Regions from separate parts of the Homo sapiens genome. Here region 2 is linked to region 1. A link means that fine-mapping ties the variant in region 1 to the plasma level of a protein whose gene starts in the linked region. Region 1 holds a variant in brackets. A gene starts in the other region. All regions are shown on their reverse strands.

Evidence for each region. A credible set is the group of variants that fine-mapping cannot tell apart. PIP is the chance, under the fine-mapping model, that this variant and not a neighbour inherited with it causes the effect. The UK Biobank Pharma Proteomics Project read protein levels with antibody pairs (Olink). The fine-mapping took linkage between variants from a reference panel, not from the people measured, so its PIPs are less certain.
Region 2: it holds the start of CXCL9, and the variant in region 1 is the best candidate, but not a certain one, in a credible set for the plasma level of the CXCL9 protein (UK Biobank, PIP 0.54).

The regions. Positions count from the first base shown.
Region 1 is chr12:112,149,673-112,165,861 of GRCh38, reverse strand. It overlaps TRAFD1 (TRAF-type zinc finger domain containing 1), which reads right to left. Exons shown (of 12, transcript NM_006700.3): 9 at 15,991-16,111; 10 at 13,722-14,061; 11 at 13,363-13,435; 12 at 12,258-13,127. The coding sequence ends at 13,071. It overlaps HECTD4 (HECT domain E3 ubiquitin protein ligase 4), which reads left to right. Exons shown (of 76, transcript NM_001388303.1): 73 at 1,587-1,753; 74 at 2,125-2,320; 75 at 2,598-2,820; 76 at 3,339-5,667. The coding sequence ends at 3,475. MIR6861 (microRNA 6861) reads left to right here and starts at 2,541; the gene lies at 2,541-2,604. The variant C/T (reference allele first, on the strand shown) is at 11,980.
Region 2 is chr4:75,994,934-76,011,122 of GRCh38, reverse strand. CXCL9 (C-X-C motif chemokine ligand 9) reads left to right here and starts at 3,614. Exons shown (of 4, transcript NM_002416.3): 1 at 3,614-3,737; 2 at 4,849-4,975; 3 at 6,230-6,314; 4 at 7,424-9,848. The coding sequence starts at 3,674. The coding sequence ends at 7,525. SDAD1-AS1 (SDAD1 antisense RNA 1) reads right to left here. Exons shown (of 3, transcript NR_125906.1): 2 at 14,379-15,017; 3 at 5,181-6,050. RefSeq lists an enhancer at 1-3.

The DNA of each region.
Region 1 (16,189 bases):
TTGGGTCCGACCCTGTCGTCTCCCTGGTAGCCCAGCAAGCACAGTGCGAATCAGTTTCCCCTGGACGCTGATCCTGGTCGCCATATGTGGGGAGGCGACAGCCTGTACACCTCCACAGACAGGACTAAGTCAGGGCTGTCTGGTGGCAAGGGACAGAAATCCCAACTCCAACAAGCTTTAGAAAAAAATTGTTTAAAATGAGTTGCTCTTAGGCCGGGCGCGGTGGCTCACGCCTGTAATCCCAGCACTTCGGGAGGCCAAGGTGGGCAGATCACGAGGTCAGGAGATTGAGACCATCCTGGCTAACACAGTGAAACCCCGTCTCTACTAAAAATACAAAAAATTAGCCAGGCATGGTGGCGGGCGCCTGTAGTCCCAGCTACTTGGGAGGCTGAGGCAGGAGAATGGTGTGAACTCGAGAGGCGGAGCTTGCAGTGAGCTGATATCGCGCCACTGCACTCCAGCCTGGGCGACAGAGCAAGACTTCATCTCAAAAAAAAAAAAAAAAAAAATTAGTTGCTCTTAAAACAAAAAGCATGATGGGTTTGACTTCAGGCAGGGCCAAATCCAGGTGTTCAAACAGTATCATCTGGTATTGGTCTCAGGCCTCTGATCCAGATTGCTTTAAAAAAAAAAAAAGAAAGAGGACAGGCGCGGTGGCTCAGCTGTAATCCCAGCACTTTGGGAGGCTGAGGCGGGTAGATCACGAGGTCAGGAGTTCAAGACCAGCCTGGCCAAGGTGGTGAAACCCCGTCTCTACTAAAAATACAAAAATTAGCCAGGCATGGTGGCGGGTGCCTGTAATCCCAGCTACTCGGGAGCCTGAGGCAGAGAATTGCTTGAACCCAGGAGGCAGAGGTTGCAGTGAGCTGAGATTGCGCCACTGCACTCCAGCTGACAGAGCGAGAATCTGTCTCAAAAAAAAAAAAAAGAAAAAGCGGTCTGGGTGCAGTGGCTCACACCTGTAATCCCAGCGCTTTGGAAGGCTGAGGCAGGTAGATCACCTGAGGTCAGGAGTTAGAGACCAGCCTGGCCAACATAGTGAAACCCAGTCTCTACTAAAAATACAAAAATTGACCAGGCATGGTGGTGGGCGCCTGTAATCCCAGCTACTCGGGAGGCTGAGGCAGGATAATTGCTTGCACCCAGGAGGCGAGGGGTTGCAGCGAGCCAAGATTGCGCCATTGCACTCCAGCCTGGGCAACAAGAGCAAAACTCCGTCTCAAAAAAAAAAAAAAGCAAGCATAATTAGCCTCAAGCAGTCTCTCCCAGCGCACGGGCAGAGGTGGCCTCCAGTGGTAAAGGGTTTCCCATCATAGTCGGTCCATGCCAGTGAGAGAGGATCGCTGCCTCCAAACAGACGTGGGAAGAGGCCTGGAATGTGGGTCTCTTTAGCCTGGCCTGGGTCACACGCCCGGCCCTGAACTGATGGCAGGTTCTGATTGGCGAAAGCTGTGTCACATGCTCATCTACACGGCCGAGGGTAGACCCCACCAGCTGCGCTTGGGGTTTACCCAGCCACCTGGGGATCAGGGTTCCACCTCCCATGGCCTCATAATGAGCCTCGCTCTGCCTCCACCCTCCAGATCAATGATGAGACCGAGCTGGAGGCCCTGTGCGCTGAGATCGCCTCCCAGCACCTGGCCACGGAGAGCCCTGACAGCCCCAACAAGCCCTGCTGCAGGTTCACCTACCTGACCATGACGGGCGAGGAGGTGGAGCTGTGCAGCCGGGGCCGGCACATCCTTGTGGCGTGAGTGTGTGCGCGTGTCAGGGGCTGGCAGGGGCTGGCCCGGCCAGCCAGCCAGGGTATGACAGCAGCATCTGTTCCTGGGCAATGACACGAGGACCTAGGTCAGGTGACAGGTGGATTTCACCAGGAGAGGGAGATGAGGCAGGATGGTGGGTGCCAAGAAAGAGGGTCCTCAGCAGAAGGGGTTTACTAAGAAAACAGCAGCTCTGAGGCGGCGGCACCAGAGGCAGGAAAGGACTGGGATGACCAGGGCGGCTGGGCCCCAGGCCTCTCCCAAGAGAGGATCCGGGACCTCCAGCTGAGTGGGTGTGGCCCCCAGACCCAGCCTCTTCGGCGGTGTTCTCCCTCACCTGTGCTCCTCACCCGGGCAGGTGGGAGAACAAGGACATCTACGCGGCAGCCATCCGGAGCCTGCGGCTGCGGGAGCTGCAGAATGTGGAGTGCGTGACGGCCGTGCGGGCCGGCCTGGGCTCCATCATCCCCCTGCAGCTGCTGACCATGCTCAGCCCACTGGAGATGGAGCTGCGCACCTGCGGCCTCCCCTACATCAACCTCGAGTTCCTCAAGGTAGACATCCCAGGGCCAGGCTGGGCGGGGAGGTGGTGAGCCCCAGGCGTGCCTCCCTGTCACCCTCAACTCCAGCAGCAGGCATCGGCAGTGGCCTGTCTCAGCTCTGTCCTTGCCACAGACCTGTATCATTGTCATCATTGTCATCTCCCTGTGCTCACAGCCCACACGTTGCACCCTGCCCCAGGATTGGGCCTGGCCTGCAGACCCCAGGGCTGGGGAGGCACTGGGTAGGTGGGGCTCCAGGGCTCCTGACACCTGGACCTCTCCTCCCCAGGCCCACACCATGTACCAAGTGGGGCTGATGGAGACGGACCAGCACATCGAGTTCTTCTGGGGGGCCCTGGAGATGTTCACCCAGGAGGAGCTGTGCAAGTTCATCAAGTTTGCCTGCAACCAGGAGCGCATCCCGTTCACCTGCCCCTGCAAAGATGGGGGTCCCGACACTGCCCATGTGCCCCCGTACCCCATGAAGATCGCCCCCCCAGATGGCACAGCAGGTACCGCCCTCCCCTGGCCATGTCCCAAGTAGGGACACACTAGCCTTTCTCTGTTTGGAACTGGGGCTGCCAGGCCCCATGTGAAGGGAGAACAATGAACAGGAGCCCCACGTGCCAAAACTCAGACATCATTGAGGATTAGGGCCCGGCAGGAACCAGCCATACAGGCCTGCTGTTAGATACTTTCTCATATCTTAAAAGAAGCTGAAAATCCAGAATGCTTCAAATCTTCTAACTTTTAAATGCAGAAAAATGGTTAAAAAAAAAAAAAAAGAAACAATTTGCTGGGCAGACAAACCCATCAGCAGTTTGGCACATGCGCTGTCCAGCAGCTCTCTCCCCTTTTCCCTCCAAGAACATCTCGCAGGTTCCCAGGCCCTCATCCCCCTCCTGCTGGGCCCCAGGATTGGCTTGGGGCTACCCAAGGAGGCAAACCTGGAAGCAGAGGCCAGCCCAGCTTCCCTGGGAGCCTCACAGATGTGGGCCCAACCCTCTGATGCTGGCTCGGTTTCTTGTAGGTTCCCCAGACTCTCGCTACATCCGCGTGGAGACCTGCATGTTCATGATCAAGCTTCCCCAGTACTCCTCTCTGGAAATCATGCTGGAGAAACTTCGTTGTGCCATTCACTACCGTGAAGACCCCCTCAGTGGCTGATGGGAGGGAGCCCCAGAATTAGGCTGTCACTGAGGCACCCACTCTGCTGGCTTGGGAAGCCACCACTGCGGCCCGTCCCTCCAGGGCCCTGCGTGAGGAGTTGGCAACATTTTGCTTTTCCAAACTTTCGTCCACATTCCAGGGCCTCCTGGAAGACTTAACCTTTTGTCTTTGTACGTTTCGTGATGGGTTGGTTCTTTTGCTGCCTGTTTGTGGTCTATTTGTAGGATAGTTTAGTTCCCAGACAGTTTGTGTCTAATTTGATCTTCTTGGACATTGTCCCTCATGGCCACCAGATTCTAATGCCATAAGGCCCCAGCTGGTTCCCCATCACAGAACCACCCAGCAGGAAGCCGGGGGTACAATGACCTCGGCCACACAGAGCGCTCGTGCTTTCAGCAGAGCGCCTCCACAGACAAGCCTGTGGCCAGCCCTGCCCTCCAGCCTCGAGCTGGAGTTGCTCCAGAGGCAGCCCCAGCAGGCCTCCCTCCACATAGAGGTGGCTGGGCCAATTGCCCAAACACGTGAGACACACAGGGAGCTTTATGTGTTCATCTTCCTGCTTTAGAACTTGCTCCCGGTCTTGGTTTTTCTGAGGAAAAGCCCACAGTGGTTCCCCTGCCCCTCCCATACCTCCCTATCTGCCGTCTGTCTCTTTGGGCCCTGGTCTGACAGTTTTCATCTGAGGCCTCCTCGGGAGCAGGAGACTTAAGGGTTCATCCCGACCTTAGTTCACAGAGCCTAGCTGGGTGCATCCCAGCCGCAGGGGGTGAGAAGACACCCAGAGATGGGGGACAATGCTCAGGTGGGGGCCTCCTCCGAGACTCTGGTTGAGAGGAAAGCACATGATTCAAGCCTACCCCACAAAAAAGGAGCACAAAATGCTCAGAAATGGCCCTTCCTCCCTGCAGTGACGTAGGACAAGGGAAAGGGCCACACCCATTTTCAAAAGAGTGGACTGAGGTGCTCTGCTCAATTTGGGGTCTGCTTTAGTGACCCAGACACTCAAGTCCAGATGGAGACTCCAGGGGGGTCCTTCTGCCCCTCTGGCCAGCCCCACCCAGCACTCCCCATCACCCCATGTAAGTGTGTATGCCAGGGCTGAGCTGCCTCCAGGCTCACCCACTGCATCTTTGCCCCAAATAGGTCTTTGTCCAGTGGTACTTTGTTCATGAGCAGCACAGGCCATCTTGTTGGACACTGTCACTTTGGGCCTTGCCAGGTCTCACAGAATCACATCGCTGTATTTATTGTATAATATTGTGAATATTGGAAGTTTTGAGTGAGTGCTGTCTAGAAGGTTTTGGAGTGTGGATGCTGGTCCAAGAAAGAAGATGTGCCCTGGCCTGCTGGAAAGATTGTGAATTCTAGAGATAGAGCCGTTAGCATCCATCTCCTCCCTGTAACTCTTAGGAAATGCATCAAGGACCATTATAGAAAGGATCCCCTGACCTAAGGATGAAATCGACCTAGGGTTAATCATGACAGCTGCATCAGTTGTATTGGATGCAAGTCAACTCTGGAGGTGAGTGCCCGCAAGCAGTTCCCCTGCTTTGAAAGAAGATGGTCAGCCCGCTGCCTCCCCAGCGGCCACAGCTCCTTTGAGTGTGGGGGGTCACAGCCAGGATGTATTCCTGACAATAAGGATCCTTTTATTTTCATTTCTGCATAATGAAAGAGCCTTTCGATTTATTAGAAGTGGTTTTTCCTCCCTACATCTTTAAATTCTTGGTTCTCTTTAGTCCTCATCCCTTGAATGGACTTGTCAGCTACCTCCCCAGGAGGAGTTCAGAAGCTTCTGTTGGCCATCACTTGAGTAGATGACAAGCTGTAAGGTATCTGCTGCTAACGTGGCTGCTTCTCCGAGAGCACATTGAGGTCCAGACAGATCCAAACCTTGGCCCTAAAAAATGTGTGCTGTAAAGTTACTTGATGTATATTTATTATAATTATTTATGGTTGCATTTAACAAACTTTTCATTCAATCTGATGCTATTTACACCATGCTGTGTAAAGGAAGCTCACTAAAGGAAAAAAGTCACACCAATAAATAACCTTCATCTAATTTTGATTTACCTTAAGAGTTGTGTGATCATCTACTCTTGCTGAGCAAGTTCAAAGGCTGGCATGCTTGGATGGCTCTGATATTTAAGTGCTGCCAAGTGGCTAGGAATTAAAGTGTTTCTAATTATTATGGTCTCTTGGCATTTGACGTGATTCTTACTCCATGAGGTTTTTAAACTACCCTTCCCCAAACCTGACTCTTCAGTCTGTGCATTCCATGTAGAAATTACGAAGGCAGGGGAATCCAAAATCAAAGTTAAACCTAACCCTACATCCCCTGCCCACTTTTTGTCCTGGCAGCTAGTCTATGCGCTTGGGCCTGGTGTGGGCATTTTCCTCAAGCGGATTGTTATCGTGGCAGAGTCTGGGCCCCTCTTAGACACAGCTCCTCCTTCAGGAGCAGGCAGTGGATGTAGACCTACCTTGTGCAGAAGGCACATACAGGAAAGAGGTGAGGACTTGCTGAGTCTTGCTGTCCATGATCAACACTCAGGTCCTTGCACAGCTGCCTCCCTGGCCAGGGAGCCCAGGTTGGCTATACTCCGGATAATCTCAGTTCTCTGTGACCTGCTTGTCCCCTCCTACTGTTCCATGGTAGTCCTCACCCAGAGCCGCTTTATTCTCATGCTCTCAACTCCACCTTTCTTGTACTTCATAAACACTAACTTTGGAAGGGTGGCAAGATGGCCGAATAGGAACAGCTCTGGTCTGCAGCTCCCAGCGAGACCAACACAGAAGGCAGGTGATTTCTGCATTTCTAACTGAGGTATCTGGCTCATCTCAATGGGACTGGTTAGACAGTGGGTGTAGCCTACAGAGGGTGATCTGAAGCAGGGTGGGGCATGGCCTCACCCAGGAAGCACAAGGGGTCAGCAAACTCCCTCCCCTAGCCAAGGGAAGCCATGAGGGACTGTGCCGGGAAGAACGGTGCACTCCGGCCCAGATACTATGCTTTTCCCACAGTCTTCACAACCTGCAGACCAAGAGATTTCCTCCAGTGCCTACGCCACCAGGGCTCTGAGTTTCAAGCACAAAACTGGGTGGCCGTATGGGCAGACACCGACCTAGCTGCAGGAGTTTTTTCATACCCCAGTGGCACCTGGAATGCCAGCAAGACAGAACAGTTCACTCCCCAGGAAAGTGGGCTGAAGCCAGGGAGCCAAGTGGTCTAGTTCAGCAGATCCCACCCCCATGGAGCCCAGCAAGCTAAGATCCACTGGCTTGAAATTCTCACTGCCAGCACAGCAGTCTGAAGTCAACCTGGGATGTTCGAGCTTGGTGTGGGGAGAGGCGCCTGCCATTACTGAGGCTTCAGTAGGTGGGTTTTCCCCTCACAGTGTAAACAAAGCTGCCAGGAAGTTCGAACTGGGTGGAGCCCACCACAGCTCGGCAAAGTCGCTGTAGCCAGACTGCCTATTTAGACTCCTCTCTGGGCAGGGCATCTCTGAAAGAAAGGCACCAGCCCTGTCAAGGGCTGATAGATAAAATTCCTATCTCCCTGGGACAGAGCACCTGGGGGAAGGGGCAGCTGTGGGCACAGCTTCAGCAGACTTAAACTCCCTGCCTGCCAGCTCTGAAGAGAGCAGCAGATCTCCCAGCACAGCACTTGAGCTCTGCTAACGGACAGACTGCCTCCTCAAGTGGGTCCCTGAGCCCCACGCCTCCTGACTGGGAAACACCTCCCAGCAGGGACCGACAGACACCTTATACAGGATAACTCTGGCTGGCATCGCGTGGGTGCCCCTCTGGGACAAAACTTCCAGAGGAAGGAACAGGCAGCAATCTTTGCTATTCTGCAGCCTCTGCTGGTAATACTGGTCTGGAGCGGACCTCCAGCAAACCCCAGCAGACCTGCAGCAGAGGGGCCTGTTAGAAGAAAAACTTAACAAACAGAAAGGAATAGCATCAACATCAACAAAAACAACATCCACACAGAAACCCCATCCAAAGGTCACCAACATCAAGGACCAAAGGTAGATAAATCACCGAAGATAAGGAAAAACCAGCGCCAAAAGGCTGAAAATTCCAAAAACCAAAACACTTCTCCTCCAAAGGATCACAGCTCCTCCCCAGCAAGAGAACAAAACTGGATGGAGAATGAGTTTGATGAATTGACAGAAGTAGGCTTCAGAAGGTGGGTAATAACAAACCCCTCCAAGCTAAAGGAGCATGTTCTAACCCAGGGCAAAGACGCTAAGAACCTTGAAAGAAGGTTACAGGAATTGCTAACTAGAATAACCAGTTTAGAGAAGAACATAAATGACCTGATGGAGATGAAAAACACAGCATGAGAACTTCGTGAACCATACACAACTATCAACAGCTGAATCGATCAAGCGGAAGAAAGGATATCAGAGATTGAAGATCAACTTAATGAAATAAAGTGAGAAGACAAGATTAGAGAAAAAAGAATGAAAAGGAATGAACAAAGCCTCCAAGAAATATGGGACTATGTGAAAAGACCAAACCTACATTTGATTGGTGTACCTGAAAGTGACAGGGAGAATGGAACCAAGTTGGAAAACACTCTTCAGGATATTATCCAGGAGAACTTCCCCAACCTAGCAAGACAGGCCAACATTCAAATTCAGGAAATACAGAGACCACCACAAAGATACTCCTCAAGAAGAGGAACGCCAAGACACATAATCATCACATTCACCAAGGTTGAAATGAAGGAAAAAATGTTAAGGGCAGCCAGACAGAAAGGGCGGGTTACCCACAAAGGGAAGCCCATCAGACTAACAGCAGATCTCTCTGCAGAAACCCTACAAGCCAGAAGACAGTGGAGGCCAATATTCAACATTCTTAAAGAAAAGAATTTTCAACCCAGAATTCCATATCCAGCCAAACTAAGCTTCATAAGCAAAGGAGAAATAAAATCCTTTACACACAAGCAAATGCTGAGAGATGTTGTCACCACCAGGCCTGCCTTACAAGATCTCCTAAAGGAGGCACTAAATATGGAAAGGAAAAACCAGGACCAACCACTGCAAAAACATACCAAATTGTAAAGACCATCGACACTAGGAAAAAACTGCATCAACTAACAGGCAAAACAACCAGCTAGCATCATAATGACAGGATCAAATTCACACATAACAATATTAACCTTAAAAGTAAATGGGCTAAATGCCCAAATTAAAAGACACAGACTGGCAAATTGGATAGAGTCAAGACCTATCAGTGTGCTGTATTCAGGAGACCCATCTCACATGCAAAGACACACCTCACGTGCAAAGACACACATAGGCTCAAAATAAAGAGATAGAAGAATGTTTATGAAGCAAATGGAATGCAAAAAAAAGCAGGGGTTGCAATCCTAGTCTCTGATACAACAGACTTTAAACCAGCAAAGATCAAAAAAGACAAGGGCATTACATAATAGTAAAGGGATCAATGCAACAAGAAGAGCTCACTATCCTAAATATATATGCACCCAATACAGGAGCACCCAGACTCATAAAGTAAGTTCTTAGAGGCCTACAAAGAGGCTTAGACTCCCACACAATAATAGTGGGAGACTTTAACATCCCACTGTCCATGTTAGATCAATGAGACAGAAAATTAGCAAGGATATTCAGGACTTGAACTCAGCTCTGGACCATGTGGACCTAATAGACATCTACAGAACTCTCCACCCCAAATCAACAGAATATACATTCTTCTCAGCACCACATCACATTTATTCTAAAATTGACCACATAATTGGAAGTAAAACACTCCTCTGCAAATGCAAAAGAATGGAAATTATAACAAGTAGTCTCTCAGACCACAGTGCAATCAAATTAGAACTCAGGTTTAAGAAACTCACTCAAAAACTGCACAACTACATGGAAACTGAACAACCTGCTCTTGAATGACTACTGGGTAAATAATGAAATTAAGGCAGAAATACATAAGTTCTTTGAAACCAATGAGAACAAAGACACAACGTACTAGAATCTCTGGGACACAGCTAAAGCAGTGTTGAGAGGGAAATTTATAACACTACATGCCCACAGGAGAAAGCAGGAAAGATCTAAAATCAACACCCTAACATCACGAAAAGAACTAGAGAAGCAAAAGCAAACAAATTCAAAAGCTAGCAGAAGACAAGAAAGAACTAAGATCAGGCAAAACTGAAGGAGATAGAGACAGGAAAACCCCTTCAAAAAATCAATGAATCCAGGACCTCATTTTGTGAAAAGATTAACAAAATACACCACTAGCCAGACTAATAGAGAAGAGAGAAAAATCAAATAGACACAATAAAAAATGATAAAGGGGATATTACCACTGATCCCACAGAAATACAAACTACCATCAGAGAATACTATAAACATCTCTATGCAAATAAACTAGAAAATCTAGAAGAAATTGATAAATTCCTGGACACATAACACCCTTCCAAGACTAAACCAGGAAGAAGTCGAATCCTTGAATAGACCAATAACAAGTTCTGAAATTGAGGCAGTAATTAATAGCCTACCAACCGAAAAAAACCCAAGACCAGATGGATTCAGAGTCAAATTCTACTAAAGGTAGAAAGAGGAGCTGGTACCATTCCTTCTGAAACTATTCCAAATAATAGAAAAAGAGGGACTCCTCCCTAACTCATTTTATGAGGCCAGCATCATTCTAATACCAAAACCTGACAGAGACACAACAAAAAAAGAACATTTCAGGCCAATACCCCTGATGAACATCGATGTGAAAATCCTCAATAAAATACTGGTAAACTGGCCGGGCACGGTGGCTCACGCCTGTAATCCCAGCACTTTGGGAGGCCAAGGTGGGTGGATCACAAGGTCAGGAGATCGAGACCATACTGGCTAACACAGTGAAACCCTGGCTCTATTAAAAATACAAAAAAATTAGCCGGGCGTGCGCCTGTAGTCCCAACTACTCGGGAGGCTGAGGCAGGAGAATGGCATGAACCCGGGAGGCAGAGCTTGCAGTGAGCTGAGATCATGCCACTGCACTCCAGCCTGGGCAACAGAGCGAGACTCTGTCTCAAAAAAAAAAAAAAAAAAAAAAATACTGGCAAACTGAATCCAGCAGCACATCAAAAAGCTTATCCACCAGTCGGCTTCATCCCAGGGATGCAAAGCTGGTTCAACATACTCAAATCAATAAATGTAATCCATCATATAAATAGACCAATGACAAAAAACACATGATTATCTCAATAGATGCAGAAAAGGCCTTTGATAAAATTCAGCACCCCTTCATGCTAAAAACTCTCAATAGATTAGGTATTGATGGAACTCATCTCAAAATAATAAGAGTTATTTATGACAAACCCACAGCCAATATCATACTGAATGGGCAAAAACTGGAAGCATTCCCTTTGAAAACCGGCACAAGACAAGGATGCCCTCTCTCACCACTCCTATTCAACATAGTGTTGGAAGTTCTGGTCAGGGCAGTCAGGCAAGATAAATAAAGGGTATTCAAGTAGGAAGAGAGGAAATCATATTGTCTCTGTTTGCAGATGACATAACTGTATATTTAGAAAACCCCATTGTTGGCGGGTCACAGTGGCTCACGCCTGTAATCCCAGCACTGTGGGAGGCCGAGGTGGGCAGATCACGAGGTCAGCAGTTTGAGACCAGCCGACCAACATGGTGAATCCCGGTCTCTACTAAAAATACAAAAATTAGCTGGGCATGGTGACGCACACCTGTAATCCCAGCTACGCAGGAGGCTGAGGCAGAAGAATCACTTGAACCTGGGAGGTGGAGGTTGCAGTGAGCCAAGATCGCACCGCTGCACTCCCGCCCGGGCAACAGAGCAAGACTTTGTCTCAAAAAAACAGTGTAAAACCAACCAACCTCCTACTATTTTACTCAATGTCTAATCCAACCAAAGGCAGAGTGGGGAGAGTTTGACTTTCTGGCAGGTCTATCCCCACACTCCAACAGACAGTTAAGGGCAACATGACTGTTCCCTGGCCCAGCTGGGGAGAGGACTTAGAGCTGCCCTGGATCCTTCCTCCCAACTTTTTGAAGTTCCAGGGAGATTTCAATGACAGCAGAAGCCATGCAAGTCCGAGTCCCTCCAGTTTCTTTCACGCAACAACACATGAAAGTCTCACTGAGCTAAGGTGATTTTGTTTTACTGAGATATAACTGACATACACTAAAAGATCTAACCCTACTATGTATCGTTTGTGTGTGTGCGCGAGTGCATGCAGACGAAGCTTTTTTCTCTCAGGATAATTCTTTTCAGAGACCTGCCTCTGCAAAGAACTGGCCGCATGGTTCCCGTGTCTAGTGTTCCATCTATGAAATAGGGCAGTTCCTCCCACCTTTCCCACCCCAACAGGTTGTTGGAAGAACAAAGGAACTCAAAATGACCTACGGTGCTCAGTGGTCCTATGCAGACGGAGGCACTGAGGGGTAACAGCTAATCCTGCTAGGGCTCAACTCCTCTCAGGATGAAGGCTTTTGAAGAAT[C/T]TGCTTTTCTCTATTCAGTCAGAGGCACCCCTTCTAGCCCCAGTCATCACCGGAGCTGCAGCAAGCCTGTCAGTTTTCTCAGAAGTCCAATTTAAAACACTACACGTTCAATGTCTGTGTACTCCAAGAAGGGACTCATGGTGGAGCTGCGAGGGTTACTGGAGTGCCGGAGAAAGCCCAGCCCTGCTCACCTCCTCCAACCCCAGGGCTGACTCCAGCCTACCCTGCCCTCCCTGCAGTCTCTAAAGCACACAGGAGAAGGAACCACAAGACTGAGCTGAACTCCAAGTACAAACTTTATTTCTATTACAAGGAAGTTAATAATTATTATAACAGTAAAATAAAAACAAGGGGAAGGGGCTCTGACACTTGGTTTTCAGAGCAAGTGTGGGGCTGGGGCAGAGCCCAACATACCTGCTGTGGGGACAGGGAGCCCTCAGCCCTCCCCATTAGAAAGCAGTGAGGACAAAAGATCCATGCTCCCCCGGGAACAGAAGGCAGTGATGCCAAATGCCAAGGAAGCAGCTTAAAACACAGCCCCCGGTCCACTCACCTCCAGCTCAACACATCAAAAGCCTCGTTACTGACAGACATTGCAACTGGCCTGAGCACCTTACCAGAGCGCCTCATACACACCTGGGGCCCAATCGAGTGTGGACAGACGCAGTACACGGAGAGGTTGCCCAAAAGCCCCCAAATTTAGGCCCCAACAGGGCAGAGAATCACCTTACTGGTGGCTACCAGGTTTCCAAAATCTTCCCCTCCTTCCACTGGGACCACACAGCACCAAGGGGCAGTGGCGACAATAAGTCAAAAGGGAGCCCTGGCAGCCGAGGCTGCAGCTTGTATTTCACTGCTGCCGAAAGGTAGCAGCTAAGGCTGAAGCGTTCCTCAACCGCCACCCTGCTCCCTTCCCTCAAACCCAAACCCCCACAGCACAACCTCAAAAGACACAAAATGGCCATAACCTAGAAAAATCTAAAATCTGGAAAAACTCTCCCACCCAAAGAGCCAAAGAGGTGGGCCTGCACAGCGGCAAGTGCTGCTGTGCACAGAAGACAGGAACCGATGTAAAGTCTCTGGAGACACCATTACTCCTCCTCTTCCTCTTCTGCATCCCCAGCTCCCTGTTGCTTGGAAGGCTTTGCCTGGTGAACAACACAACACAAACGAAGCTTTACATAAAAAGTGAAAAAGCATTACTCCTCCCCTGGATCCCCGAAAATGTCCCGCTTCCTTAGAAACCTCCTTCTCAAAAGCCAAAGGAACAATCTTTGAACCACAACCAGCCTGGTCCCAACAACTTCTACAACTTCAGGAGCCACACAAGCCCCACCATGTCTGAGTCCCCCACTGAGCATCATGGGCTGGAGCCCACCTTACCTTTGCAGTTCTGCTGCGGTAGTTGGCAGCTGCAGGGGTGACCCGGGAATTCCTGCCACCTTCACTCCTACCACTGAAAGAAAACAATTAGAAACTAGCTCCTGAAGTGTCCCTGAGCAAAGGTCAACAAACTCAGAGGGAACAGGAAGCAGTCCTATGCTAGCAGACAAACCCCAAAAAACCCATAGGCCACAAAATAATTTTTTTGGAGTCAGGTGACAATACAGGGAAAATCCATACTCCTCCCCTTACCATGCAAGTACCTCAGTCTTACCCCAGGCCTGGCAAGGGTAACCAGGCCTTTGCCCATGTTCGCTTCAGCTACTCCCAAGCCCCATTCCTGGGCTACTGATTCTTACCTAGCTCCGTATCTCCCTGAAGGCCCAGGGGAGAAAGAGGGCACAATGTTTTCTGGGTAGAGATTTTGAGGAGGGCGAATCACTGAAACGTGCCCAGGGGCTATGGCCCCATTCTGGCTGTCTCGATTCCGCCCCTGGATGTCCTGGCTGTCTGAGTTGCTGAGCTTCGGCACACAAGGAGAGCTGGGCTGGCACCCAGGTCTGGGGCCTGATGTTGATCTCGATAGCTGGTTATAGGTAGCTGTCATATTGTTAATGGGTCGGCTGGGAGGCAGACAGGAGGTGGGCCCATTAGCTGTTTCCTGCTTAGTATCATCCAGGTAACCAGAAGACAGGTCTCCTGAGAAGAGAAAATGGTAACAGCTTTAGGAAAAAGCCTGCTCTGGCTATAGTGCCAGGTTTAGGGCAGGAACAAAAAGATTCCAGATAGAAGACAACTGCTCAGCCAGGCGTGGTGGCTCATGCCTGTAAACCCAGCACTTTGGGAGGCCGAGGTGCGGGGATCACCTGAGGTCAAGAGTTAGAGACCAGCCTGGCCAACATGGTGAAATTCCATCTCTACTAAAAAAAAAATACAAAATTAGCCAGGTGAGGTGGCACACAGCTATAGTCTCAGCTACTCAGGAGGCTGAGACCAGGAGAATCACTTAAACCCAGGAGGTGAAGACTGCAGTGAGCCAAGATCATGCCACTGCACTCCAGCCTGGACAAGACAGAGCAAGACTGTGTCTCAAAAAAAAAAAAGACAACTGCTCACCCCAAAAGGCTGCTGGAACCCACATCTCCAGGGCAGAGATGGGGATATTTTATCAATTCTGCACATATTATCTGAGTCCTCAAAGACAGCCTCCTAACTATTCAACAATAGTGTGCAAGCAAACCTTGAAAAATAATTTTTTTTTTGAGATGGAGTCTTGCTCTGTCGCCCAGACTGGAGTGCAATGGCATGATTTTGGCTCACTGCAGCCTCTGCCTCCTGGATTCAAGTGATTCTCCTGCCTCAGCCTCCCAAGTAGCTGGGACTACTGGCGCCCGCCACCACGCCCGGCTAATTTTTGTATTTTTAGTAGAGACGGGGTTTCATGATGTCAGCCAGGCTGGTCTTGAACTCCCAACCTTGTGATCCGCCCACCTCAGCCTCCCAAAGTGCTGGGATTACAGGTGTGAGTCACCATGCCCAGCCAAAAAATAATTTCTAATTGGCTTTGTAGTGGTGAGGTTTCAAAAACAGTTTACTTGCCTAAACATGATGGTCTTAAGTAATAATAATAAGTTTGAGGCTGGGTGTGATGGCTCACACCTGTAATCCCAACACTTTGGGAGGCCGAGCTGGGAGGAACACTTGAGCCCAGGAGTTCAAGATCAGCCTGGACAATGTGGCGAAACCCCAACTCTACAAAAAAAAATTAAAAATTAGCTGGGTGTGTTGGTGGGCACCTAGCCTACCTATAGTCCCAGCTACTCAGGAGGCTAAGAGTGGGAGAATCACTTGAGCTCAAGAGGTTGAGACTGCAGTGATCACGCCACTGCACTCCAGCCTGGATGACAAAGAGACCCTGTCTAAAAAAAATAAATTAAATAAATAAGTTTGAGGTCGGTCACAGTGGCCTACGCATGTAACCCCAATGCTTTGGGAGTCCAAGGCAGGAGGACTACTTGAGGCCAAGAGTTCGAAATCACCCTGGGCAACATAGCAAGACCCTATCTCTACAAAAACAAAAAAATTAGTTGGGTGTAGTAGAGTGTGCCTGTAGTTCCAGCTACTTGGGAGGCTGAGGAGAGAGGATCACTTGAGCCCAGGAGTTTGAGGCTGTGGTAAGCTATGATTGTGCCACTGTACTCCAGCCTGGGTGACAGAGCAAGACTCTGTCTCTACAAAAAAATTAAATAATAATAATAGGTTTGAGTACCCTAAGTGTATTTCAACTTGAAATGGGGGCCCAGGGTAGCTACCATAAGGTCTGCAAATTATCTACAAATAATCCACTAAGTGCACAGATAGGAAACCAGAAACTTATTACAAGCACTTACTACTACATGTATCTCATGGATGTCCGCAAAGCCATTACCCTAAAAATCACACACTTGAGAGAGCTCAGTCTAATGTGGGACCACAACTACCTGCAGAGGAGTCCCCTATGAGACCCTAGTGTGTTTGGAAATTTGAGATGCAGGTAATCCCCACATTAGAGCAGTGGATGGGAAGTGGTAAACAGGCCGGAGCCAGCAGTAGACCTGCGGCCTTGGCTGAGTCCTGGCTAATAAATACCCTGGTGTCTGACACGCCTCCTGGGCAGCTCTGGTGAGGTCTCTTGAGGCTGGGAATCCAGTCTAGGAATCCCCTCTGTCACATGGTTGGTTGCAGTGGCTGGGCGTTGGTCACACTGGTCCTAAACAAGAAAAACCAGAATTAGTACCTCTGAATTGAGTCATTCCCAGAAAAGAGCATGCGATGGGAGGAACAGCAG
Region 2 (16,189 bases), not on the chromosome of region 1:
GAGGCCCCTGGAGCCAGGCAGCCCTTTACAGACCCTATCCAACTTCCAGACCTGCCGAGCCAGCTCCCAGCTCCTTCCCTCATGCGTGTGCGCTTACTGGGTGCTAGGCACTGTGTTTAGCACCATGCTCAGACGGGGAGCGTCGCAGGCCTTCCTTGCCTAGTGGTGGAAGGAAATGTTAACCATAGGGTTGCAGGGAAACGTAGCGTTGCTGCGGACACGGGCTCAGCAAGGCCTCTGCAAGTGTGCGGTGAGAGCCCCTCTGGGGTTCAGGAAAGTCTTCCCAGGGAAATGATGCTGGCCTGGGTAACTATGGTGAGTAACTACTATGCAGGAGGGCAGGAATGAGGAGCATGCACAGTCGCTCCAGGCAGAAGAATGGCATGAGCAAAAACAGTGCCATGGGAAGGAGCATTGTCCCCTTTGAAAACTGAGAGAAGGGCCGGGTGCAGTGGCTCACGCCTGCAATTGCAGCACTTTGGGAGGGCGGGCAGATCACTTGAGGTCAGGAGTTCGAGACCGGCCTGGGCAACGTGGTGAAACCCGGTCTCTACTAAAAATACAGAAATTAGCCTGGCATGGTGGTGGATGCCTGTAATCCCAGCTACTTGGGAGGCTGAGGCAGGAGAATCGCTTGAGCCTGGGAGACGAAAGTTGCCGTGAGCTGAGATTGCACCATTGCACTCTAGCCTGGGCAAAAAAAAAAAACGGTCTCAAAAAGAAAGAAAAGAAAAGAAAAGAAGAGGGGAGGGGAAGGAGAAGGAGAAAAGAAAAGAAAACTGAGAGAAGACAAAGTGATGGGAGCAGAGAGCTGTGTAAGAAGAGGCTAGAAAGGTGGGTAGCACCAACAGTGCTGGGCCTTAGTTCTTATCCTAAGAAATTTCCATCCTCCTTTCTTTGCTGGAAAGAACAGCCACTAGCCCTGTGAGGCTTTGCAGTTGACAATCCGTCCTTGGCATTAATTTTAACACCCTGTGAGGTCTAATAATTTTCTTAAATGAGGGAGATGAAGCTCACAAAAATTAAGTATTTTGCACACAGTCATTAAGTGGTAAAGCAGGAACGTGAACCTATTTGCACTCTATGCATTGCCACAGTCAGTACCAAAATTAAGCATGAGCAAATGGATAAGCTGTATCAATGGTCACCACATGTTTTATTCAAAAAGAATTCTGTAATTCCATTTAAGTATTAATAATCTGTATAGAAGTCAGTCAAAAAATGTGCACCATGTGACATGAAATGCTAATATCCATTTTCCTCCAATTCTACAGCATGCATTGTCAATGGGAAGAGAGGTAAATTGCTCCCAAGGGGGAAAATATTGGTTCTTGGAGAGCTAAAAAATTTTAGATATTGCAATGACTAGTGGCCTACCAAGGTTCAACCCTACCCAACAAAATCTTATTTCTTAGCATTTGATTTCTCTCTTCAGGAAGAAATTAAATTTAGTTTTCAGTTCATTTTATTTTTTCTCAGAGCAAGGTGAAATGTGGGGGGGTGTGTGTGTGTGTGTGGGTGCACATGCGCGCACACACGCATGCAGTGCTGAGTCCATAATGAAAAAAAACGTTGAGAAACATTGTTTTACAATAAGGAAATCTCCAATCTTTAGCTAGTCAACCAAAATAAAGATGACGTTTCTTAACTTCCCCTACAACTAGGTGTAGCCATGTGATTAAGGCCTGCCTCCATGGGAGGTGATAGAAAATGATGGGTGCAACTTCTAGGATGTCTAAAAAGGAGGGACATGCCCTTTTTCTGCCTTCTCATCATCCTATACCTGGAAATTGGACATGGTGGCAAGCCACCTTTGGCCATGTGCATGAGGGCAGCAATCTAGAGATGGTGACAACACAAGAAAGGAGAAGCCTGGAAGACCTCATGGGAAAGAGCCACTATCCAAGTGCTAATCCACCTACATCTCTCAGGGAGAAATAAGCTTCTATCTTAGCCACTGTTTTCTGTTGTTGTTTTTTTTTTTTTTATTTTTCCATAAGTTATTGGGGTACAGGTGGTATTTGGTTACACGAATAAGTTCTTTAGTGGTGATTTGTGAGATTTCGGTTCACCCATCACCCAAGCAGTATACACTGCACCCTATTTGTAGTCTTTTATCCCTCACCCCGCTCCCACTCTTCTCCACAAGTCCCCAAACTCCATTGTATCATTCTTATGCCTTTGTGTCCTCATAGCTTAGCTCCCACATACCAGTGAGAACAGATGATGATTGGTTTTCCATTCCTGAGTTACTTCACTTAGAATAATAGTCTCCAATCTCATCCAGGTCACTGCTAATGCCGTTAATTCATTCCTTTTTGTGACTGAGTAGTATTCGATTGTGTATATATAAACCACAGTTTCTTTATTCACTCATTGATTGATGGGCATTTGGGTTGGTTCCATGATTTTGCAATTGTGAATTGTGCTGCTATAAACATGCATGTGCAAGTACATTTTTCAAATAATGACTTCTTTTCCTCTGGGTAGATACCCAGTAGTGGGATTGCTGGATAAAATGGTAATTCTGCTTTTTAGTTCTTTAAGGAATCTCCACACTGTTTTCCATAGCGGCTGTGCTAGTTTACATTCCCACCAGCAGTGTAGAAGTGTTCCCTGATCACCAAGTCCACACCAACATCTGCTGTTTTTTGATTTTTTGATTATGGCCATTCTTGCAGGTGTAAGGTGGTATCACACCGTGGTTTTGATTTGCATTTCCCTGATCATTAGTGATGAGCATTTTTTCATATGTTTGTTGGCTATTCGTGTATCTTCTTTTGAGAATTGTATATTGATGTCCTTAGCCCACTTTTTAATGGGATTGTTTGTTTTTTACTTAATGATTTGTTTGAATTCATTCTAGATTCTGGATATTAGTCCTTTGTCAGGTATATAGATTGTGAAGATTTTCTCCCACTCTGTGGGTTGTCTGTTTACTCTGCTGACTGTTCCTTTTGCTGTGCAAAAGCTCTTTAATTAGGTCCCAGCTATTTATCTTCATTTTTATTGCATTTCTTAGCCACTGTTAATTTGGGTCTCTTACATGCAACTGACCCCTTATTCTAACCAATTTATTAGTTTAAAAAATAATACTGTAGCAGGAATGATACAGAATGAGCTTACCACTAGTAGAAAATGACCTGGTCCCAGAGGAAATTAAGGTGCTTTAAGTTGTTAAGTGGGCAATATAAGAAAATATCAATGTAGCCATCTATTATACAGAAGAATATGCCATAAATAGTAAGGGAATTTGAAAAGTATATTATTTATCTGGACTTTAATATTTCCCATCTGGAAACCACATCTCCAACCTTTGTTGTATAACATTAGTATATTCATTATATAACCTATTCTTCACACAGGTGAGCAACTGTGAATGTGCCAAAGGCTATCAGTGTTGCTAGTTTCACATCCCTTACTATAAACCACCCATTTATGTGAAATGGAAATAAAAACATGCAGAAATTCCCTTGGATCTGAGACTAGGGTTTCCCCCAGCACAATCAAGTTTGTGGTCAATTTAGTTAGCTCAGCTAAAGATACTAGCCAATCAGAGTTTAGGAGAGAAATGAATATCCTAAATAAATATGATCCCCAAAATGTGTTCTCTAAAGAATTTCTCAGGCTCAAAATCCAATACAGGAGTGACTTGGAACTCCATTCTATCACTATGAAGAAAAGTGGTGTTCTTTTCCTCTTGGGCATCATCTTGCTGGTTCTGATTGGAGTGCAAGGTAAGGGGTTCTGAGTTAGGTTGTAAAGTAAGAGAAGTGATTCACTGTAAAAGAATCTTGATTAGCCAGATAAAGGTGAATGTTCTGCCTGCATTGAAGAGTAATATTTGGTCAGTCATAAAAGCTTCTCAGTGACATGACCAGTTATCCAAAGTTCATAACTTCGATCTGCCAAGTCAAACACAAGTCTTTGTAGTCTAGGTGTATGAATTCCTAGTAAGTGTTCAATAAATGTTCATTGAACTGGGTAATAATGAGAACTCTATCTCCTAAATTATTTTCTTCTCCCTGATACTGTTTTTTGCTAAGTATATCTGTGGCTAACCAATTAAGGATCCAACCAATAATCAGAGAATTTGTCCCTAATCTATTTACTAACTATCTTTGTTACCTTGGACAAATTACTTAATCTTTCTAGACCTCAGTTTCCTCATCATCTGTAAAATAGAACTTTGTAGTTATACCTTTTCTGACTGCTACACAATGTATGGCATATGGTACAATAAGTACCAAGTAAATATATGAATTTAAGAATTAAGATAATGTATTTTAAGGGGTTTTCAAAAATTTAAAACACTATTGAAAAGCAAGGCAGTGGGGAGGAGAGAGGATGAGGATGAAAGTGGTGATTGGTTACAAAGGAGTGCTTTCTATTCAACACCAACACCAGTTCCATTCCTTAAGGTCAGATAATAAATAATAGATGGTTTAGGAGTTGCTTAAGAAACTGTGATCAGCATAGCATACATGAATTAGTTATCTGTTTGTCTTGTGATAGGCATTTATTAAATATTGTGAAAGTCTCTTTTTCTCCCACGGACTTACGGTGTGGTAGTTAAGAGCAACGCCTTTGGACTCAGAGAGATCTGGGCTAAAACCCTGCCCCTGCTCCCTAAAAGCTGTATGACTTTGTTCTTAATCTTTCTGAACCTTAGTTTCCTTATGTATAAAATAGAGATGATACCTCCTTCAAAGGTTTGTGGTGATTATTTTTAGGCACTCGGTAAATGATAGCAATAATCATGACTCAGTCAAGTGTATCATTTTGATAGATCACCTAAACTGAAACATTGGCCTATACTGATGTGTTCTATCTTTTTCTTTCCCTCAGGAACCCCAGTAGTGAGAAAGGGTCGCTGTTCCTGCATCAGCACCAACCAAGGGACTATCCACCTACAATCCTTGAAAGACCTTAAACAATTTGCCCCAAGCCCTTCCTGCGAGAAAATTGAAATCATGTAAGTAACAACCCAGCTAACATGCATGCACCATATTGGCAAGAACATTAAATTTAGCATGAGTTTTACCCTTGGAGTGCTTGCCCATACAAACACTTAAAAATCAGATGGTTACCCCCTCCATAAATTTGGGCAGCTCCTTTCTTTTCTTCTCCTTAAAAATGCAAGGAATTTCTGGTAGATTAGGCCCCAAGAATGACACATGTTTATTGTACAAAATGTTTAATGCAGGTAACACAATAGAAGAAAATAAAAATCACGCATAATTCTACCCTTGAGTGACAAATACTGTTAACCCCTTAGTATACAGTTTTCTAAATCTTCCTTACTTGCTTCGTGTGCACATAACATAGATATGTTTTTACATACACGTATATAAGCACAAAAATTAAATCATATACTATACACTGTTTTGTAATCTGCTTTTTCATTAACACTATATCATGAACATTTTCTCGTGTCAGTAAATCTCTAATAATGTCATTTTTACTTAATGTCATTTTTAATGGCCAAACTGTATTTCATCATATGGATAAACCATAATTTATATGACCAGGATTATTGTTGGAAATATAGATTATTTCCAAATTTTTACTGCTGAAATAAAACTTACTGTGGCAGTATTGTGTCTGTAATTCTTTCCTTTCTAGAGATTAGGATTGCTAGGTTGAAGGATGTGTGCATATTTTGTCTTTATAAGTCATCCTTGACTACTCTTATTCTCAGACTATACAGAAAAATTAAAGGAACATTTAAATTATTTCCAGACAGTCTACTGTAAGTAATTTTTAAAATTTAACCAGGGCCGGGTGCAGTGGCTCACACCTGTAATCCCAGCACTTTGGGAGGCTGAGGTGGGCAGATCATGAGGTCAAGAGATTGAGACCATCCTGGCCAATGTGGTAAAACCCTGTCTCTACTAAAAATACAAAAATTAGCTGGGCGTGGTGGCGCATGCCTGTAGTCCCAGCTATTCGGGAGGCTGAGGCAGGAGAATCGCTTGAATCCAGGAGTTGGAAGTTGCAGCAAGCTGAGATCGCACCACTGTACTCCAGCCTGGCAACAGAGCGAAATTCTGTCTCAAAAAAAGAAAAAAAAAAAAATTCAACCAGTGACTCATCTTGTCCTAGGAAATAATTTTAAGTAGTTTCATTAGAAAATTCAGCACAATTCATACTGATTTTCATTATTTCTGAGAAGAAGCATTTAAATTATTAATGAGAAAAAACTATCTCATTGCTATTTCTTTGGCAGTGCTACACTGAAGAATGGAGTTCAAACATGTCTAAACCCAGATTCAGCAGATGTGAAGGAACTGATTAAAAAGTGGGAGAAACAGGTTGGTGAAAAGGAAGATCAAAATTTTCTTTCTTTTAGAAATTAACTTTAGAAGACAAAGAATCTGCTTTTTCATTAACACTATAAGAATACATAACTTTTAAGAATACATTTTTCATTCATATTATGGTGCTTCTATTTTGTTCCTAGGACAAAATTAGGTTCCTACATATAGTATCCCCTCTCTGTCTCCCACTGGAAGAATGTGTGTTCCTTGGGGGTACAGAGCTTGTCCTTATTTAATACAATAAATATGTAATGAATTGAATGGTAGACACAGGATACAAAGATAATAAGGTATAGTCCCTTCCTGTTGTAGTGCATATGCTAATAATTATGGTACAATGTGAGAAATATAAAAGTATGCACAAGAATCTTGACGACATAGAGGAGGGAGTACTTAACTTTGCTGGGGGAATGGGGCAGGAGAAAGTGTTAAGGAAGATTTCTCATGTCAGGTGATATTTGATTTGGGTCTTGAAGGATAAATAATTTGCCAGGAAGGTAAGGACAGCATGAGCAGAAGAGTAGAATCATGAGAGAACCTGCTGTGTTCAGGGAGCCTCCATTAATGTGGCTGGAGTTTGTGTGAAGAGAGTGAAGGGACTGAGGCAGAAAAGTAGATCAGGACAAAGCGGGAGGAATCCTGCATGGCATACTAAGGAGTTGGATTTGAAGAGAGCCACAGAATATGTGGGTGGGAGATTGGGTTCTGGAGTCTCACAGACTGGAGGTTCTGCCACATACTAGCTGTCTAGATTTGGGAAAGTCACCCTCTCCAGAACTCAGCCTCCTCCTATGTAAAACGTGGATGATAATAGTGCCACCTTCAGAGGGTTGTAGCTGGGGCAGGTGAGTGGTAAGCAAGGTTGCCAGGAGAATGTAATAAGCCAGAAGAATAGACAAAAGACAGCCAGTTTGAAGGCTGTTGCCTCCTCCTCAAAGTGAGCAAAGTAGAGAGAATCTAAGGGAGCCCCTCTGAGAGTGAAGTGACTTTAATGTGGTTTTGAGACTATGTGGGTATGAGACAATGATCAGGAGAGTCCAAATAAAAGGAAGTAAAAATGGTAAGATTCAGAAACATTGCCCTTTTTCCCCTTCTTCTCACAGGTCAGCCAAAAGAAAAAGCAAAAGAATGGGAAAAAACATCAAAAAAAGAAAGTTCTGAAAGTTCGAAAATCTCAACGTTCTCGTCAAAAGAAGACTACATAAGAGACCACTTCACCAATAAGTATTCTGTGTTAAAAATGTTCTATTTTAATTATACCGCTATCATTCCAAAGGAGGATGGCATATAATACAAAGGCTTATTAATTTGACTAGAAAATTTAAAACATTACTCTGAAATTGTAACTAAAGTTAGAAAGTTGATTTTAAGAATCCAAACGTTAAGAATTGTTAAAGGCTATGATTGTCTTTGTTCTTCTACCACCCACCAGTTGAATTTCATCATGCTTAAGGCCATGATTTTAGCAATACCCATGTCTACACAGATGTTCACCCAACCACATCCCACTCACAACAGCTGCCTGGAAGAGCAGCCCTAGGCTTCCACGTACTGCAGCCTCCAGAGAGTATCTGAGGCACATGTCAGCAAGTCCTAAGCCTGTTAGCATGCTGGTGAGCCAAGCAGTTTGAAATTGAGCTGGACCTCACCAAGCTGCTGTGGCCATCAACCTCTGTATTTGAATCAGCCTACAGGCCTCACACACAATGTGTCTGAGAGATTCATGCTGATTGTTATTGGGTATCACCACTGGAGATCACCAGTGTGTGGCTTTCAGAGCCTCCTTTCTGGCTTTGGAAGCCATGTGATTCCATCTTGCCCGCTCAGGCTGACCACTTTATTTCTTTTTGTTCCCCTTTGCTTCATTCAAGTCAGCTCTTCTCCATCCTACCACAATGCAGTGCCTTTCTTCTCTCCAGTGCACCTGTCATATGCTCTGATTTATCTGAGTCAACTCCTTTCTCATCTTGTCCCCAACACCCCACAGAAGTGCTTTCTTCTCCCAATTCATCCTCACTCAGTCCAGCTTAGTTCAAGTCCTGCCTCTTAAATAAACCTTTTTGGACACACAAATTATCTTAAAACTCCTGTTTCACTTGGTTCAGTACCACATGGGTGAACACTCAATGGTTAACTAATTCTTGGGTGTTTATCCTATCTCTCCAACCAGATTGTCAGCTCCTTGAGGGCAAGAGCCACAGTATATTTCCCTGTTTCTTCCACAGTGCCTAATAATACTGTGGAACTAGGTTTTAATAATTTTTTAATTGATGTTGTTATGGGCAGGATGGCAACCAGACCATTGTCTCAGAGCAGGTGCTGGCTCTTTCCTGGCTACTCCATGTTGGCTAGCCTCTGGTAACCTCTTACTTATTATCTTCAGGACACTCACTACAGGGACCAGGGATGATGCAACATCCTTGTCTTTTTATGACAGGATGTTTGCTCAGCTTCTCCAACAATAAGAAGCACGTGGTAAAACACTTGCGGATATTCTGGACTGTTTTTAAAAAATATACAGTTTACCGAAAATCATATAATCTTACAATGAAAAGGACTTTATAGATCAGCCAGTGACCAACCTTTTCCCAACCATACAAAAATTCCTTTTCCCGAAGGAAAAGGGCTTTCTCAATAAGCCTCAGCTTTCTAAGATCTAACAAGATAGCCACCGAGATCCTTATCGAAACTCATTTTAGGCAAATATGAGTTTTATTGTCCGTTTACTTGTTTCAGAGTTTGTATTGTGATTATCAATTACCACACCATCTCCCATGAAGAAAGGGAACGGTGAAGTACTAAGCGCTAGAGGAAGCAGCCAAGTCGGTTAGTGGAAGCATGATTGGTGCCCAGTTAGCCTCTGCAGGATGTGGAAACCTCCTTCCAGGGGAGGTTCAGTGAATTGTGTAGGAGAGGTTGTCTGTGGCCAGAATTTAAACCTATACTCACTTTCCCAAATTGAATCACTGCTCACACTGCTGATGATTTAGAGTGCTGTCCGGTGGAGATCCCACCCGAACGTCTTATCTAATCATGAAACTCCCTAGTTCCTTCATGTAACTTCCCTGAAAAATCTAAGTGTTTCATAAATTTGAGAGTCTGTGACCCACTTACCTTGCATCTCACAGGTAGACAGTATATAACTAACAACCAAAGACTACATATTGTCACTGACACACACGTTATAATCATTTATCATATATATACATACATGCATACACTCTCAAAGCAAATAATTTTTCACTTCAAAACAGTATTGACTTGTATACCTTGTAATTTGAAATATTTTCTTTGTTAAAATAGAATGGTATCAATAAATAGACCATTAATCAGAAAACAGATCTTGATTTTTTTTCTCTTGAATGTACCCTTCAACTGTTGAATGTTTAATAGTAAATCTTATATGTCCTTATTTACTTTTTAGCTTTCTCTCAAATAAAGTGTAACACTAGTTGAGATAACACATGAAAGCTCTTTAAAGGGTCGATCGGGAACAGGAAAAAAAACCTATGGAAAATATGACAACACTGCCTTACAACAACACTGATTTAAAAGAGTTATGTGGGGCTGGGCGCAGTGGCTCACGCCTATAATCCCAGCACTTTGGGAGGCCGAAGTGGGCGGATCACTTGAGGTCAGGGATTTGAGACCAGCCTGGCCAATATGGTGAGAGCCCATCTCTATTAAAATTACAAAAATTAGCTGGGCATGGTGGCATGCGCCTATAGTCCCAGTTACTTGGGAGGCTGAGGCAGGAGAATCACTTGAACTCGGGAGGTGGAGGTTGCAGTGAGGCAAGATCATGCCACTGCACTCCAGCCTGGGTGACAGAGTGAGACTCTGTCAAAAAAAAAAAAAAAAAAGCATTATGTAGAATTCAATGTATTTCCTAATCCTCAAGAGTAACACTATTCCAATGAGGTGTGTCCCCAGGAAGCCAACACGTCTTCTTTTCTATCCCTAAAATTGTATATGTTTAAATATTGTAAAGCCTCAAGTAGTTATGATGGAGACCTAAACACTGAATGAATTATTTAAGGGTCCAGGAAACTTGGGCTGGAGGCATTACGCAGCGTGGAGTCTCTAAGAAGGTTGAGAGTGGAACGAAGAGCATCAGCCTGTACACTTGATGTACACTTTAGAGGCCAGACAGGTGTAATATTCGGGCAGATAACAGCTGCTAATGGTAGACATGAATTCTCACAAGGGCCTTCACCTGAGAGGCAACAGGACTCTGGAAGGAGCTAAGATCCTGGATTCTGAGATATCCTGGTTAGAATCAGGGGCCCACTACTTATTAACTGTGTGACCCTGGTTAAAGTATAATATTTAACCTCCCAGTGCATCATTTTCCTCATTCCAGATTGTTGTGAGGAGCAGGTTCAGCATAGGTCTTGGTGCAGAGAAAGTCCTCAATGTTTGTCCCAGATCCTCCCTAACCACTTACCTCTGCTGCATCTTCCTTGCAGCAGATGGATCCTACATCTCATAGAGAGAGAAATGTTTCCAGCACTGAAAAAACATGTTGGAGAAATGAGACTAAAAGGCTTCCTGACCAGTTCTCAATATCTGTATTTTATAATCCTAGTCCAGGCCATCATTGTCTCTTTCCTGAGCTACCTCAGTAGCCTGCTGTTTTCCCTGTTGGCTCTTCTTCTCAACATTTCTCTTGCTTCCCTAACTTCCATGACAACTAGAATAATCTTTTTAAAAAATAACTTACAGAATGCTGCCACCTTGCTTAAAATCCTGCAGCTTAGCATTAAGTCAAAACATACCATGAGCTGGCCTAACATAAGCTGGGATCTGCCTGCTTATCTAATCATGCTCCCTCTACCCTCCCCTCCTTTGTTGAGCCTCAGCATCACCTTTTTTCTGTATGTCTCTTGAGCACACTGAATTCATTGCCTTCTGGGGTTTTTGTTCCCTGTGGTTCTGGGTTGTACTATATCAACTTGGTTAGTCTTACAACTACATTTCCCAGAATCTCCTTCCCTGTGTGGTTCCAGGTTATAGTTAGCCAAAGAAGAACTCATGTGAGATTTGGAAATCAAAAGTGAAGGAGTGACCCTTAATCTTGATTAGACATATTGACAGACACACTGGTAGCCAGTGGATCCCAGCTTGTCCTTGCTCTTTTCCTCCATGTTCAGCTTATGCTCAGGACTGCTGGCCTCATGATCAGTGATGGTCCCAGGCCCCCCACCCAGATATTTGGCAGTGGACCCACAGAGGCGGTAGTTACACAGAAGCAACAGCTCCCATAGACCCTAGCAGCCCCAATTTGGCGCTGAACGGGCTTAACTTCTTGGATTTTTCACACAAGCTCTATTTGTCCAACTGTCCCAGTGCTTCTGATGGACCAGTCACTGATTCTTCCTCTGATCCCCTGACTCTCCCTTCTAGATGTTCACTCCCTGAGATCCTTCCTCATCTGTGAGATCTGAATCCTATAGTAAATTTTTATCCTCATAATACTCATAGTGGCTCTGCTTCCCTGAAACACCTGGGCCTACACACACTTCTTTGCATGGCGGTTCTTGCCTCATCACTTAAGTCTCAGTTTAAATGTCACTTCACAGAGTCCCCTTCTCTTATGACCCTTAGTAAAATAACCACTCTTTCCCCAGACTCTCTCTCTGGTAGTGGTAGTGGTTCCAGTGTGTGTACCTTATGGAGTTGATGAAAATATTTAGAACTTACATTTTTGTCTAAAAAACAAGAAAAAACTGAAAATTGACTGTAAATCATTTGTCATGTGCTAATTTCCTGAGGAAAAGGTGACATCGCCACAACTGAGGGGCTGGCATGTGCCCTCACTCAGTCATTCACCTTCTGCAGATTGCAACATGAGTTTCCATTTATGTGCATGTAGTTAAGGGGATTTAAGGATTACAAGACAGAGTGCTCACTAAGCCAACCTTCACAAAATGGGCAAGTGGCTCTAAAAGACTCCTGCTAAGAAATTCCTGAGGAAAAGGTGACATCGCCACAACTGAGGGGCTGGCATGTGCCCTCACTCAGTCATTCACCTTCTGCAGATTGCAACATGAGTTTCCATTTATGTGCATGTAGTTAAGGGGATTTAAGGATTACAAGACAGAGTGCTCACTAAGCCAACCTTCACAAAATGGGCAAGTGGCTCTAAAAGACTCCTGCTAAGAAATTCCTGTGGAAGATCATATTAATAATGCTAATATAAACTAACAAGAGAACAAAACATACATAGATGGGATGGCTGTTCTAATTTTAACTAGAAGGGTACACAATTTTAAAAATCCGGTGGCTAGAGTCTGTTTCATTTTCTTTTATCATGATTAGATATAATGATCAAACCATCACAATCTACAATTACCTTTTAAAATAATGTGTGTACTTATATCTTCCCTCCTACCCTACCACATGTACAAATTTAGGTTTCTCGACCATGGAAACTTTGTCTTCCCCACTACTGCATGCCTAGAGCAGTGCCTGGCACTTAGGAAGCTCCTAATATGTATTTTTTAGTTGATTGACATATACTTCACCCTAAATTTTCATTTTAGGCCTTTTCCAAATCAATTTCAACTACTCTTGTCATGTTCATCTCATGCTCATTTCTGCCCTCGCATTGCTCATTCTTTTATTCGCCCTGTCCTACTTTCCAACTCATCTGACTCCCACCTACACATGATTCAAGTCCCACTTTTCCCATGACTCCATCCCAGAATCCTCCTGGCCACACTGATATCCACCTCCATGCCCTGTCATAAAATGACTTTAACTAGTAAGGATTGTTCTATGATTAAAATCTTCAATTATTTTGCTATACTAGAAAGCAGTCTGTGCCTGAACAAATTTTATACATTAGAGCAATGGATAAAAGACTCAGACGTATTTAATCTGTAAACTATTCTTATGAATTTAAATGCTAGTGGCCAGGTACCATGGCTCACGCCTGTAATCCCAGCCAAGGTGGCTGGATCACTTGGGGTCAGGAGTTTGAGACCAGCCTGGCCAACATAGTGAAACCCTGTCTCTACTCAAAATACAAAAATTAGCTGGGCGTGGTGGCACACGCCAGTAATCTCCACTACTTGAGAGGCTGAGGCACAAGAATCGTTTGAACCCAGGAGGCGGAGTTTGCAGTGAGCTGAGATCGTGCCACTGCTCTCCAGCCTGGGCAACAGAGTGAGACTCTGTCTCAAAATAAATTAAATAAATAAATAAATAAATAAATGCTAGCGATCTCTAGGTCAGTTAACTGGGAGGAAGCTATCTGTAGTTGTTTTATCCTTACGGGGAAACTGGAAAGTTGCCTTCTTATTGGAAAGGAAGATAAAGAGAGACTACAATCACAGATACTTTAGGTACTGTCTCGTTTTTGGCCTATATAGACAGGAGATGAAATTAAATGAGAAAGAAAAACAGGCAACACTTCTTAATAGGGAGTGGAATTAGCTCCCAAGTCATCACAAGCCAAGAAGTCACTTGAGGCATTTTGATACCCACATTGGTTTAAAGTTCTCAGGAGGGAACTTTCAACTTTGGACCCTACATTTTAAGGAGATGAATAAATCACAAAGGAACAGTCTAATCTAAGTCCATTAATAAGATTATGAACTGGGGCAAACTGACAAAAGATTAGAGGGAAAGGTGTCAAGTTATACATAACTAGTTGCTTTCTTTAAAAGTCTGCTATACAGATTAAAAAAAAACTCTTCCTTTAGATATAATATACTGTTTCAAGTCAACTGTTTTAATAAAGAATTTGTTTTGCTCAAAGAAAAAAAGAAGGAAGGACTTGCTGGTATCTCCATCTCCAGAAAACTAAATCTTGGCCTCTGCCTTCTGGTAGAGTATAGGACCAAGTAGGTACAGCCATCTACCACCAGCTTTCTTTAACCATTGGAGTAGACAACCTGCATTTCCTCTGGAATGAAGAACTAAAAATCACAATCTATTAGGTAAGAGGATACATGTCAAAATAAACTATATAACAGAGAGGGAAAAAATGTGTTGCTTAGAAAAAGAAATGCCAGCAATCACTTCTGCAATACTGAAAGCCTCAGAATTTACCTCAGGGCAGATGTCTCTTTTGTATGGAGCCTTTGATTAGGGAGAGATGGGCCTAGGACTTTTGATGGTATGGAAGTTAAAGCAAAACTAAGCTAAATTTCTCTGAATAATGGGGAAACAGGGATGATCTCTGCCAGCTAGGGAGAATGTTGGGGACCTTGGATCAGCAAAAAGAGAGGCAGTGGAGGTGGATGAGAAGCGAGGGCCTGTACCAATGACAAAATCTATCAGCCCTGATAGATTTGTCCAGAGGCAAGGCCAAAAGTTTTCGCTGCCCACAGGAGCAAAGAAATACATGGGCTTGTGGGGAAAACTCATAACAAAGCTGTAAAAGAGAGAGAGGAGGAAGAAAGTACAATAAAAGGCCGGGTGCGGTGGCTCACGCCTGTAATCTCAGCACTTGGGGAGGCCAAGGCGGACGGATCACGAGGTCAGGAGATCGAGACCATCCTGGCCAACATGGTGAAACCCCGTCTCTACTAAAACTAGAAAAATTAGCTGGGCGTGGTGGCGCATGCCTGTAATCCTAGCTATTCAGGAGGCTGAGGCAGGAGAATCGCTTGAACCAGAGAGTCGGAGGTTGCAGTGAGCCGAGATCGTGCCACTGCATTCCAGCGTGGCAACAGAGTGAGACTCCGTCTAAAAAAAGAAAGAAAGAAAGAAGAAAGAAAATGCAATAAAAAATTAAATTAGCTTTAAGGACTATAATTCTTTATGAGATTTCTGTTTAGTTTGTGGGCATGTCAAATCATGTAATTTTCCCGTTAACAAGAAAAGCATGAGCTCCCTCTAGTGGCTAATCTAACAGTTTTTTTAAACAATAGGCCAAACATCGCAGCTCCCACCTGTAATCCCAACATTTTGAGAGGCTGAGGCGGGAGGATCACTTGAGCCCAGAAGTTTGAGACCAGCCCAGGCAACATAGCCAGACCCACCCACCCGGTCCCTCATTTCTACAAAAAAATTTAAAAATTAACCAGGCATGGTGGTGCACACCTATAGTCCCAGCCACTTGGGAGACTGAAGCAGGAGGATAGTTTGAACCCAGGAGGCTGAGGTTACAGTAAGCCATGATTGTGCCACTGAACTCCAGCCTGAGTGACACAGCAAGACCCTGTCTCAAATAATAATAATAATAAAACAATATATTTTAATCAGAAAAGGATGAAGACATGACTGGCTTTTCCGAACACAGTCAATATCATTGGTTTCTAATGAGAAAGGTAATAACAAGGATTCACACGTTAGTCACTTACTGATTTTCAGGTAAATTTTATCTGCGTTTGTCCAAGATATTTTAAGTTCCTGCTTTAATAAATCACACAGTTGAAGAATTGGAAGTCATTAGAGATTATCCATGCATTCATTCATTCATTCAACAAATATTAACTGATTACCTATTATATGCATGCATTGCTCCAAGTGTACAGGATAGACAATGAACAAAACAGTCTTCATTAAGCTCATATTCTAGTGCATAAAGACAGGCAATAAACAACTAAACTAGTAAGTATACGATATATCAGAGACGGATAAGGGCTTTGGAGAAAATGAAGCAGGGGAAGGGAGTGTGGGGTGAGCAGAGGGCTGTGAGGTCAGGGAAGACATCTCTAATAAGTTGTCATTTGAGCAGAGACTTGACAATGAGAGAGCAAGGCTTGTGGCACTTGAATCAGAGGAAACAGCAAGTGTGAAGGCCTGAAGTTTGACACATTTAAGGCAGCTAGGGGATCATTGCAGGGTTGAAGGGGCGCAGAGTAAGCAAAGGGGAGAGTGATGGGAGAGGAGCCCAGTGAGATAGTGTGGGGTCA